Linked DNA regions of Homo sapiens: all the other regions are reported to be linked to region 1. Evidence: microRNA targets listed by miRTarBase, many of them from high-throughput screens and not tested one by one. Region 1 holds a microRNA gene; each other region holds the end of a gene's coding sequence.

Region 1 (4,139 bases):
GTAAGTAAGTAAATAAATAAATAAAGGCACAATGAAAGATCAACAATATGGCCAGGCGCAATGGCTCACGCCTGTAATCCCAACACTTTGGGAAGGCCGAGGTGGGCAGGTCACTTGAGTCCAGGAGTTTGAGACCAGCCTGGCCAACGTGGCAAAACCCTGTCTCTTACTAAAAATACCAAAAAAAAAAAAAAAAAAAAAAAAAAAAGCCAGACATGGTGGCACATGCCTGTAATCCCAGCTACTTAGGTGTCTGAGGCATGAGAATTGCTTGAACCCGGGAGGTGGAGGTTGCAGTGAGCCAAGATGGCACCACTGCACTCCAGCCTGGGTGACAGAGCAAAACTCTGTCTCAAAAAAAAAAAAAAAGAGGAACAATAATAAATAATAAAATACAATTCTAGTAAGATACTGTAATAAAAGGTATGTGAATGTGGTGCCTCTCTTTCTCTCAAAATATCTTATTGTACTGCACCATGGATAACTGCAACCTTGAAAAAGGAAGCGATGGACATGGGGCGACTACTGTAACTGGCACCTCAGAAATGGGGAAGGGGGCGGAAATATTTCACTGTGAAATATTCTTCTGCCACTTTTTAACTTTATTCAATCACATGAGTCAAAAAATTACAAATGTAAATTGGATTTTTAAAGACTGTACTGTGGGCTTATTACATAGTCACCTTTGCGGATCAAGTCCTGACTTTATGTATGACATCTATTAGCAGCCTAATTTTATATGAATTGAATGCAATTCCAAAAATAACAGTTAGGTCATTTGAAAACATATGCCTTAGGTGCCCATTAAATGCTCTTTTCAATATCTGTTTTGTTCAGAATGTAGTCTGGCCGGCCCTGGGTGAGTAGTTCCATGAAGTAAGATACTGTGATCACTTTGAGAGGGCAGGGTCCCTTTGCTCATTCCTATATCATTTCATCACCTTCCTCATGATCCAGCCAGCTGCTCTATTAAATTTGAAAACCAAGTATGCTTTCAACCTACAGGTGAAGAAATTAGATGAACTGTCTGGCCATAAATTATAATTCTTGGGAGCCAGAGCTGTTTCACTGTGGTTGAGACCAAATTTCAAGCATCTGCTCACTGAATGCTTTTCCATTTTTGCTTTAAAAGCTTCATATGAGTACATACAGCATTTTATTTGCTTCACAGCATGCCCCACAGAACTCTTTCTTGGAAATACAGAGATTCCTATTTTTAGTCTTTCAGGAAACAAAATTACTAACTTCTCCCCCTGCTTCTCTTTTTCTTCTTTATAAAGAAGAAAGGGTTGGAAATCTTATTTGCATTTTCATTCTCTGTGATACGAGGATGAGGGGGGAGGGCAGGGTTTGTGGGGGATCTTTCACATCGTTTCTCCCAGCTGGGACTAAATACCATGCATGGCCACAGCCTTGTCCTGTTCTGCACTTGCTTTTATTTATTTACCTCCAAAGCAAAACACATCCAGCAAGGGGAAGGAGTCTCGAGTTTCAGTCGTCAGGATGGTAAGAAGTCCTTCATTATCATCTTCCTGGGCATGAAACGATTTTAAAACAACTGATATACCTCTCCCTTTCTTTTTTTGAGATGGAGTTTCTCTCTTGTTGCCCAGGCTGGAATGCAATGGTGTGATCATGGCTCACTGAAACCTCTGCCTCCCAGGTTCAAGCAATTCTCCTGCCTCAGCCTCCCAAGTAGCTGGAATTACAGGTGCCTGCCACCACGCCTGGCTGATTTTTGTATTTTTAGTAGAGACAGGGTTTCACCATGTTGACCAGGCTGGTCTCAAACTCCTGACCTCAGGTGATCCAACTGCCTCGGCCCCCCGAAGTGCTGGGATTACAGGCGTGAGCCACAGCGCCCGGCCTCTCCCTTTCTTTTTTAAAAAAATTATATTTAGTCTTCTTTCAGGCTTGACCATTTGCATCTTTAAACATTATATTGCAAAGCCACTTGAAAGCTGCAGTTTACAAATGTACATGATTGATAGGTCTATAGATTTTCATAGAAGGCCTGACTTCATAAGAATTTATAATCATGAATAAAAACATTTGCATTCTCTTTCTTCCCCCAAATCATTCTGGCAGTGAACACTTCACCTGCCCAGGCCTTTTATGGAAGAGTGTATGTAATACCTCTGAGCCTTTGGGGCCTGGGATCCAGGTTGTCCCACAGCAGAGAAGGGAGGGTGAGACAAGGCAGGTTAAGCAGGTACGGCATGTTGGAAGGTGTACCATGTGCCCTTAAAGGTGAACCCAGTGCACCTTCATGAACCGTGGTACACCTTTAAGAACTTGGTATGCCTTCATGAACACTTAAAGTACCAGGGGGCACTTCATGAAACATCATTAAGTTTCTCCTAAGTCATTGCAAAATGATCAGAACTCTTTTGTCGTGGACAGCATTTCTTTTGTAGGTGTTTAGAGTTGCCAATAGCTCCATAAATTGTTAAAAGCAAAATATTGAAATATAACCTAATAATCCAGGGCCCCATGTTTTGAAAGATCACTGCCAAATCTTTCACGTAGATACCAAATACTGTGTCAACATTTAGCTAAATCGAACTGGTGGTGATCCCAACAAGCAATGAACTGGTACAAAGAGAAACAATTAGGAGAATAAAGGACTCAGCCATCAACAAACTGAATAATGATCAAATGGACAAAAGTACAGATAATGAGGAAGAGAAGAAAGAGAGAGGGAGAGGAAAGAGGTAACCGGTGCTGAGCAGGAGATGATGCCACCTGGTAGCAGAATCAGAAGCCTGCATGGTGCGGAGTGCACTATTACAAATGTGAATGTCATCAATCCTTAGAACAACCTTAAAGTCATTGTCATTAGAAGAGGAGATAATTAGCCTGAGTCACATGGCTAAAAAGCACTAGAGCTGGGCTTTGAACTCATGTCTGATGAGCCCAGGCTCTTACTCTCCAGGCTGTTCTTTGCATTTATGGTAGGCCGTCAGTCACCTGTTTCTCTCTGCATCAGAGCTGAAAGCCACAGGTTCAATCCTGAAATGCGCCTATGGCAAGAACCTCATTCTATATAGTAGTTGCAAATTGTGCCTCAGGCTTAAACCTCTCCTAGAACTGGGGACAAAAGTGGCTAGATGCTATGGTGAAAGAATATGGATAGTTCAGTTTAAACACATTTCTACTTTTAAAGAAAGAATGCATTAATGCATTATTCTCCCTAATAACGATTTAGAAGCATCTTGTTGATAGATACAGAGGAGCACATTTTAAGCTTTATAATTTTCAGTTTCAGCTCTGGAATTGGGTAAAACTGATGTGTACATTGGTTTTAGGTTAAAATGTGGCATGTAGCATTTTGGAAAGCAAAGTGAATAAATAAAAATCCAGGGGGAAATTTTTTTTCAATGCTTTTGCTCTAGGAACTTATTTATGCTGGTATCATTAGCTGTTTTTCTTGGATGACCAATGTCTATAATTGTAGTCACATATTTCTGAGATAGGATGAAAACCACAACAAAATACAAACCTTTCAAGTCAGCACATAAGTTATGTATATTAATGACAGGGAGAAATGGAGCCAGGAAAAGTGGTTTTAAAACCGCGCGGACACCAGGGAGTGTCTATGTATGTGGTTTTATTAAATCTGACTTCTAGAAGCGAGTTGTTCACCACTGAGTGTGAGAAAGAACCCGGAACTTCATAATCATATGTATTGACTATACTTCAGATCAGATAAGTGGTCCCATAGCACGGGTCCCTTGAAGAGAGATGCCATTGTGGGGTTTTAGTTAGAACAGTCTTTCGGTCCTTCTCCTGGTTCACAGGATTTGTTTGAATGTTGTTCTCATCACAATTCTACCCCTTCGTTTTTGCATAGGGTCCTTTTGTGCCCCAATATTTCATGTTCTGGGACTAAGAAAATGTTAATTGCCTATTCTCTAATAATATGTGTATAAAATGCATCCCCAAGTGACAAACTTTACTATGTAAATGATGCTGCTGTTTATAAAAGAAAATGGTGAGTTCTTACAGTCCTGATTTTGCCACTGACAGCACCTTAGCCAACCTGTGTGTTTCTCCATCTGATGTGGAGGTGCAACAGGCCTGGGCTGCACGCTGATTCACCTGGGGAACTTTAAAAAAATTCCCATGCCTGGGTCCCA
Region 2 (4,139 bases), not on the chromosome of region 1:
ATTCCTGCCCTTTTGTAGAATGATGAAGCACTCGGGACCTCTACCAGGCAGCAGAGGGGCACTTCTGGGAGGCTGGGGTGTTCATGGTGTAGCATGGCAGGGGCCTGACTCCTCTCTGCTGCCCCAGGGCAGCCCATGGACAGCACCAGCGTGGGAGGTGGCCTGCAGGAGCCAGAGGCCCCGGAAGTGATGTTTGAGGTCTTTCCTCCCAGCCTGGGACATGGGGGTGGGCACGTCCAGAGGTCCCTAAGCTCAGGGTTGGGAAGGGGGATGTCTCAGGGTGGACCTGCTAGGGTTGGGTGGGGCAAGCCAGCATGCGTCCTGCTGCCTGCTTCTGCCCCTTCCCCCAGCCCACTCTTGCTCCCTGCCCTGCTCCCCAGGCCACAGCCCACCCCTTACATGGCTCCCCTTGCAGCTGCTCTGGGCTGGGCTGGAGCTGGATGTCATGGGGCAGCTGCACATCCAGGATGAGGAACTAGCGTCCACACACCCAGGCCGCCGACTCAGACTCCTCCTGCAGCACCACGTGCCCAGTGACTTGGAGGGCACTGAGCAGTGGCTGCAGCAGCTCCAGGACCTGCGGAAGGGGCCTCCTCTTAGCACTTGGGACTTTGAACATCTGCTCCTCACAGGCCTGTCCTGCGTCTACCGGCTCCACGCAGCTAGTGAGGCTGAGGAACGGGGCCGCTGGGCCCAGGTCTTCGCTCTCCTGGCACAGGAAACACTCTGGGACCTGTGCAAAGGTTTCTGCCCCCAGGACCGGCCCCCTTCCCTGGGGTCCTGGGCCTCCATCCTTGACCCCTTCCCCTGACCCTCCTCTTTTGTTCTTTCACCTGCCATTACCCCCTCCCATCTCCTCCTCAACCCCCCAGGCAGACCCATCTTGCGCAGGGGCTTCTGTCTGGCATCTGATTCTTTTCACCGTGTTCAGATCTCTGGGCTTGGCTTGCACCCTGGACACCCCCTCTCTGCTTACCCCGACCAGATCTTGTTTCCTAGATCTTGAGAGGCTAAGAACCCAGGCTCTGGGTCGCAAGGAGTGCGCAAGGAGTGGGCACAGAGCTAAGGGCACGACTTGCAGGCAGTGTGTGTGTGAGTGTGTGTGTGTGTGTGTGTGTGTGTGTGTGTGTGTGGAGATCAGGGGTCAGGGTTGAGAAGTGTGTTCAAGAGATGCTGAAGGGAAGCTGCCCCAAGTAAGGCCTGGTCAGACCTTCCAACTCCTACCCTGGCAGTCTGTGACAGGTCCTGTGGAATTCACAGGAATCCTCTAGGTGCTGAGCATCCCCTTTTAGGCACAACCAAGGATTTGGGGTCTCTGAGCCTCCAAGTTCCCATCTGGGTTGGGAGAATCGACTTTTTGAGTTCTGTCAGTTGGAAGAGTGGAGGGAAGCAGGGGGAGGGAGGAACATTATCTCTTTTGGGGTAGGGAGGCAATATCTCAACAAGCGTCGGGTGAATACCTCAGAGGGGGGAGTAAGGCTGGGAGACCAAGGAGAGACAAGCGGAGGTGGGCTGGAGCAGGTGTGGCCCTGATTCTGTGTTGCTCTTCTCATAAAATGTTCTGTTTCGGCCTCCTGGAGCCTGTGTCATTCTATGTCGGAATAAGCGTCTAACCCCTGCTCTGGGCAAATCACTCTCCCCATCCCGGGAAGGCAAGAGTCAGGGCAACCAGGTATCAACTCCTCATCTCATTCCCACGCCCTGCTGGAAGAAGGAATGCACTGTTTCCTTGAATCCCATGCACCCTGTGGGGTAATGGGGTGCTGTTCCTTGTCACAGAAAGGCATCAGCCGGGGGCTAAGGCTGAGGTCGTAGGTCAATGATGAGTCAGAGGGCTAGACGAGGTAGGGATATAAAAGGGAGGCCCCCAACGGACTAGGCGAATGTGGTTCCATCAAATTCCCACCTCCTCACCCTCCCAGGGTCCAAGGGGACCTTGCTTTCCAACCTCCAACCCCTTCCCCGGGCCTGCGGGCCCGCAGTAGTCAGCACCTTCCCGCCTGCCGCCGGCGAATGCGTCGCAGTCAAGACAGCGCAGGGGCCTGGGCTGCCGGGCGCTGCGCGTGCCCGCTTTCCGCTTTATTGGCAGAGTCCAGGCGCGCCCGGAGGCCGTGGCGCTCGCGCGGGACTTTCGAGCCTCCGGCCCGGCCTGGCATGCACGCCCCTGGCCCTCCCGGGCTCTTCTCTGGCCCGGGGCTCACAGTAGCTCCGAGGCCCCGAGGCCCGGCGGGGCGGCGGGGGCGAGGTCGGGGTACACCAGGAAGCCGGAGAAGGTGATGTACTTGCCGTGGTTGCTGTAGGCGCCGTAGCCGTCGTGGTCGTGGCTGAGCAGCCAGACGGCGTCGCCGCGCCGCAGGGCCAGCATCACGCTCTGGCTCTGCATCTCGCGGCGCCGCGACGCGCCGTCGTCGTAAATCATGGCCTGCACCTCGTCGCGGTTCTTCATCAGCTTAACCGACAGCGTCTTACGCGGCAGCTTGCCCAGCGTGAAGGAGAAGAAGTAGGCGCCGGGCAGACGGCAGCGGAACACGCCGGCCGCCGCGTCGAAGTCGCCGCCAATGTTGACGAACTCGGTGTCGAAGGCGAGTGGTTGGTGCCGCGGCCCGGGGCCAGCGTCCGAGCCCACCAAGCTGCGCGTGCGCGCCGCCGAGAAGGCCGAGCGCGGCTCGGGGGGCGCGGGCGGCCCGCGCGCAGGCGCGTCAGCGTCGGCGTCGGCGTAGACTAGGTAGCCGCTGAAGGTGGCGCCGGGCGCGCCTAGCGCGTACTGCGGGGCGCCATGCAGCCGCAGCCACACTGTGTCGCCGTAGTCGAGCTGCAGCATGGCGCTCTGGCTGGCTGCGCGCCGCGCGCCTGGCCGCCGCTGCTCGTCGAAGGCCAGCGCCTGCACCTCGTCGCGGTTTCGCACCAGCATCACCGACAGGCTCTTGTGCGGGGCCTTGCCAGCCGTGAAGGAGAAGAAGTAGGCGCCGGGCACGCGGCAGCGAAACTGGCCGGTGGCCACATCGAAGTCGCCCCCGATGTTCACGTACACCTTGTCGAAGGTCACCGCCATCTCCGACGTGCCCTCCAGGGGGGTGGTGCGTGCCGCCGAGAAGGCCGAGCGCAGCTCAGAGGATCCCGGGCCGGGGGTCGGGCCCAGGGCCCAGCAGGCCGCTGGGCCCAGCAGGCCCAGCAGAAGCGGCAGCATGGCGCCTGGGAGGGAGACGGAGGGGCGAGAGTGGAGTGTTGGCAGGGGCGGCTTCCAAACGCCCGGCTCTCCACCGGGAGACAAGGGTTCTCTTCCCAGCCCTGCCCTTGACCCACAAGTAGGTTTCAATTTTCCTACATCCTTGGATTCTCAAACTCTAGCGAGCCTCACTGTCACTTGGAGGGCGTGTTCAAACATACATAGTTGGGCCCCATCACCAGAGTTCATTCAGTAGGTCTGTGATGGGCCTGATAATTTGCATTTCTTTGTTTTGTTTGTTTGTTTTGAGATGGAGTCTCGCTCTGTGAACCAGGCTGGAGTGTAGTGGCACGATCTCGTTTCACTGCAACCTCCACCTCCCGGGTTCAAGCAGTTCTCCTGCCTTAGCCTCCTGAGTAGCTGACATTACAGGTGCGCACCATCACGCCCAGCTAATTTTTTGTATCTTTAGTAGAGACGGGGTTTCACCATGTTGGCCAGGCTGGTCTTGAACTGACCTCAAGTGATCCACCTGCCTCAGCCTCCCAAAGTGCTGGGATTACAGGCGTGAGCCATCGCGCCTGGCCTTGAAACCCCGCCCCCCCCCCTTTTTTTTTTGAGACGGAGTCTGGCTGTGTCGCCAGGCTGGAGTGCAGTGGCTTGATCTCGGCTCACTGCAGCCTCCACCTCCCAGGTTCAAGCGATTCTCCCGCCTCAGCCTCCCAAGTAGCTGGGACTACAGGCTTGCACCCAGCACACCCAGCTAATTTTTGTATTTTTAGTAGAGACAGGGTTTCACCATGTTGGCCAGGATGGTCTTGATCTCTTGACCTTGTGATCCGCCTGCCTCGGCCTCCCAAAGTGCTGGGATTACAGGCGTGAGCCACCGCGCCCGGCCGAAACCCCTTTCTTAAGTGAAAGCTTGAACACAGACTAGCAGAAACACTCTGGTTAAAGAGGCCTACAGCCCTGT
Region 3 (4,139 bases), not on the chromosome of region 1:
CTCCATCTATAGATGGTCCGAGGAAGGCCGCAGCCACTGGTTATGAGCAAGATGGGTAGTGTGAGGTATTCCGGTCACTTTCAAAGACTCAGGGCATCACAGACACAGGTCTTTTTATGGAACTAGCCAGAGGATTCCACCCCTGTCAAAACACAGCCCTCCCCAGCACAGGACAGGGCTGTCAAGGGGTAGACAAGCCATTAGCACTCTATGCCTGTCGTCTTGTTTTCCAGGAATCCAAGAGTTTTGTAATCTCCATCAGTCAAAAGAAGAGAACCTCATCAGTTCCTGAAACGAGAGAATGTTCAGGACCAAGCAGTTACCGAGCGAGGCACTCACTGGGCAGCACATCCAGCCAGACCCGACCAGCTCCGGGATGGGGTGGGTCACAGCAAAAGGACCAGATGCTGGTGTGGTCCGAAGCCACTTTCTCAGAGACACTTTAATCATTGAGTATTTGTACACTTTTCTTTAGAACATATATAAAGGGCATTCTCTACAAATGTGCCGTTTTAAGAATAAAACCCCCTCAAATCTCTCCCCCGAGGCCTGTTTCACGTAAAAAACAAATGGGTTGTGGGATCGTGGGATTCTGCTGTGTCGGAAGCTTAGTCGATTGTAGAAACTCCCGTTTAAGCCATTTCTGCCTGTGAAGATAAGAAAGCCTAGAAAAGAACCAAAGGGGTGAGTGTGCGGCTTCACTGCAGAACACACAGGCTTGTTTTCAAACACCACAGTCCAAACGCTTTTCTTCAGATTGAGGAAAAATCTAAAAGCAACAGAGCTCAGGCTGGGCTTCGTTCTAAAATCACTGCATATGACACAGCTGGGTCAAATCAAAAAGCCCTTGAAGAGTCCTTGAATCACCCAGTAAGACAGAATGTGGGGTCTGTGTAAATTCCCTGTGTAGTAATATGTGCACAGTATATCCAGTAATGTCCAGTGTCATGCAAACCAACTTTCAGGTTTTTTAATTATATAAAAAAGAGGGACAGATGTAAACTCTACGATCATCCTCTTTGCCATGAGGTGCTTGCTCTGTTTGAGACACACAGGATCTGAGACCACGTGGGAGAAGAGTAAATTCCTGTTTTCCCTCCACTCTGGGGCATAAAAGTGGGTGGGTGGGAAACAAGAACAAATCCCCTTGTTCTTTCCCTCCCTTGTCTCTTCCCTCCCCGCCCTTCCCTAGGACCATACATATGATCAGATTTGCACATGTTCAGTGTGAGGAAGGTGTGACCTCGCCCCCCGACCCCCAGCTCCTCACGCCAAGAGCAATGAGGCTGCAAAGCCCAGGGCAGGCCCATTGCCCAGTCTGCTTCCTGCCTGGTCACATGCCTGGCCACCCCAGGGAACAGGGGAAGCCCACCCAGACCCCGGGCCCCTGTGCCCCAAGAGCTGCATTTTTCAGAATTCCCCAGTTCCTCCACACGGGTGCCATGATCCATTTCTCACCTAATGCTGGTGAATCTCCAGCCCCTCGAGGCCAGGCTTCTGAAAGTCACCTGGGCAGGCCTGCAAGGGGAAAAGTCAACCATGGTTTTCTGTCCTTACACGCGAGTGGGGCGATCCTGCTGATGGAAGGCCAGAGAAAACCCACAAAGTACAGAAAACCTGCGGAATTGGTTGCTTGATGTCTTGGCATAAAGCAGTGCTGTTCAAATTTAGGACGGTTCTACCCATTTCAGGATGAACCTGGTCAAATTTCAAAGACTTCTGTCTCTCACTTTTAGAAATATCTATTAAGTTAAAAAAAAAAAACAAAACAAAAACAAGCTGGGCACGGTAGCTCCCGCCTGTAATCCTAGCACTTTGGGAGGCCAAGGCTGGTAGATCACTTGAGGCAAGGAGTTCGAGACCAGCCTGGTCAACATGGAGAGACCCCGTCTACTATAAATACAAAAATTAGCCAGGCATGGTGTTATGCACCTGTAATCCCAGCTACTTGGGAGGCTGAGGCAGGAGAATCACTTGAACCCGGAGCCGGAGGTTGCAGTGAGCCAACACATGCCATTGCACTCCAGCCTGGGAGCAGAGTGAGACTCCCATCTCAAAAAAAAAAAAAAAAAAAAAAAAAAAATTGAAAAACCGTTTGTGACTCTTTCCTTAATTCTATACTTTTAAAAATCACTGAAAACTAACAATGGCAGTCACAAAAGGACAAAAACTATAATTGCACTTATAGGAGGTCCCTAGGGCTGTCAAACCAATAGATACAGAAAGCAGAATGCTGGTTGCTAGGGCTAGGAGGCGAGGAGGAGGGGGAGTTAGTGTTTTGTGGGTACTGAGCTTAAGTTTTGCAAGATGAAAGCAGTTCTGGAGCTGGGTGGGGTGAAGGTTGCACAATAAAGTGGTTATACTTAATGCCACAGAACTATACATTTTAAAATGGTTACAATGGTACATTTTATGTAAATCTTACAATTAAAAAACAAAACTGCCAGGCACAGTGGCTCACTCATGGCTGTAATCCCAGCACTTTGGGAGGCCAAGGCAGGCGGGCTGCTTGAGCTCAGGAGTTCTAGAGCAGCCTGGGCAACATGGCAAAACTTCGTCTCTACAAAAAAAAAAGGCCAGGCATGGTGGTACACACCTGTAGTCCCAACTGTGCCAGAGGCTGAGGTGGGAGGATCGCTTGAGCCCAAGAGATGGAGGTTGCAATAGGCCGCGATCACACCATTGCACTCTAGCCTGGGTGACAGAGCGAGATCCTGTCTCCCAAAAAATATATAAACAATAAAACATTGGCAGCCTGGCGGATATGTTACATTACAAACCGCAGTTGCCAGCAGGCCACCTTGACTTTGACTACCTGGAGAGGAGTGGTCCAAGAGTCAGACCTCAGTTACTCACCGTCTGGAACACTGTCTGGGACAGGAAACTGGCTGTGACCTTGCCAATGTCACTGTTGCCTCCCATCTTACAAAGGATGTAGCCATACAGGTTTGCAGCTTGGAGAGAGATCCCAGCAACCACCAGAGCCTGCACTCAGACAAAGAAAGCAAAGGTCACTTTTTTTTGAGACAGAGTTTCGCTCTGTCGCCCAGGCTGGGGTGCAGAGGCACGATCTCAGCTCACTGCAAGTTCCGCCTCCCGGGTTCACACCATTCTCCTGCCTCAGCCTCCCGAGTAGCTGGGACTACAGGCGTCCGCCACCAGGCCTGGCTAATTTTTTTGTATTTTTAGTAGAGACACTGTTTCACCATGTTAGCCAGGATGGTCTCCATCTGACGCAAAGGTCACTTTCTAAGAGCATTTACAGAAATGCACCTCTCAAGCCACGTAGAAATGCTCTAGCCTGCACCTAAGAATAGTAACAGCCAACATTTACTGAGCATTTGCAAATACCCACGGACACCTCAGAATCATTACAACTGGAGAGGTTGCCACCATCATCATCCCATTTTACAAAGAGGAAACTGAGGCTCAGGAAGACGAAAGCTGCCCAAGGTCACAGAGCTGGAGCGTGGTCGAGCCGGGATCCAAATTCCAGGGCCCGCACTTTCATTAAATGACACTGTTGTTTTACTATCTACAAATATTTTGTTTTCTCTATTTATTGATTTTTTTTAAGACGGAGCCTCACTCTGTCACCCAGGCTGAAGTGCTGTGGCACGATCTTGGCTCACTGCAACCTCCGCCTCCTGGGTTCAAGCGATTCTCCTGCCTCAGCCTCCCAAGTAGCTGAGATTACAGGCGTGTGCCACTACGCCCAGCTAATTTTGGTATCTATAGTACAGACAGGGTTTTGCCATGTTGGCCAGGCTGGTCTCAAACTCCTGACCTCAGGTGATTCACCTGCCACAGCCTCCCAAAGTGCTGGGATTACAGATGTGAGGTACTGTGCCAGCCTGTGTGAGTCCATTTATATGAAATGCCCAGAATAGGCAAATCCACAGAAACAGAAAAATTAATAGGTGCCAGGGCTTGGAGGAACAGAAGCACAGGGAAGCAATGTCAAAAGGGCGCAAGGCTTCTTCCGGTGATGAAAATTTCCTAACATTGATGGTGGTTTTGGCTGTACAACTCTGTGACTGCACTAGAAGCCACTGAATTCCACACTTAGTATTTATTTTATTTTTTGGAGACAAGGTCTCACTCTAGCACCCAGGCTGGAGTGCAGTGGCACAATCTTG

What was found. The annotated mature microRNA hsa-miR-938 reads UGCCCUUAAAGGUGAACCCAGU and lies in region 1 at 2,240-2,261, shown strand. An mRNA with a match to its seed (bases 2 to 7 or 8) in the 3' UTR can be bound and repressed. Matches are read on the target gene's strand: a 7mer-m8 pairs with bases 2 to 8, a 7mer-A1 pairs with bases 2 to 7 and ends in A, and an 8mer does both.
Region 2: the mRNA of FAM180B is a reported target of hsa-miR-938. Seed matches in the 3' UTR shown: 8mer at 1,064-1,071.
Region 3: miRTarBase lists NUBP1 as a target of hsa-miR-938. Seed matches in the 3' UTR shown: 7mer-A1 at 486-492.

The regions. Positions count from the first base shown.
Region 1 is chr10:29,600,433-29,604,571 of GRCh38, reverse strand. MIR938 (microRNA 938) reads left to right here and starts at 2,226; the gene lies at 2,226-2,308. All of the region lies in intron 1 of SVIL (supervillin), which reads left to right.
Region 2 is chr11:47,587,624-47,591,762 of GRCh38, forward strand. FAM180B (family with sequence similarity 180 member B) reads left to right here. Exons shown (of 3, transcript NM_001164379.3): 2 at 128-198; 3 at 416-1,571. The coding sequence ends at 811. It overlaps C1QTNF4 (C1q and TNF related 4), which reads right to left. Exons shown (of 2, transcript NM_031909.3): 2 at 2,044-3,192. The coding sequence starts at 3,187. The coding sequence ends at 2,198. Among named protein-coding and RNA genes, the nearest start is that of FAM180B, 3.0 kb to the left of the region's middle. RefSeq lists a silencer at 1,585-1,785.
Region 3 is chr16:10,768,814-10,772,952 of GRCh38, forward strand. NUBP1 (NUBP iron-sulfur cluster assembly factor 1, cytosolic) reads left to right here. Exons shown (of 11, transcript NM_002484.4): 11 at 234-538. The coding sequence ends at 292. TVP23A (trans-golgi network vesicle protein 23 homolog A) reads right to left here. Exons shown (of 8, transcript NM_001079512.4): 6 at 2,857-2,985; 7 at 1,459-1,518; 8 at 1-288. The coding sequence ends at 1,459. Among named protein-coding and RNA genes, the nearest start is that of NUBP1, 27 kb to the left of the region's middle.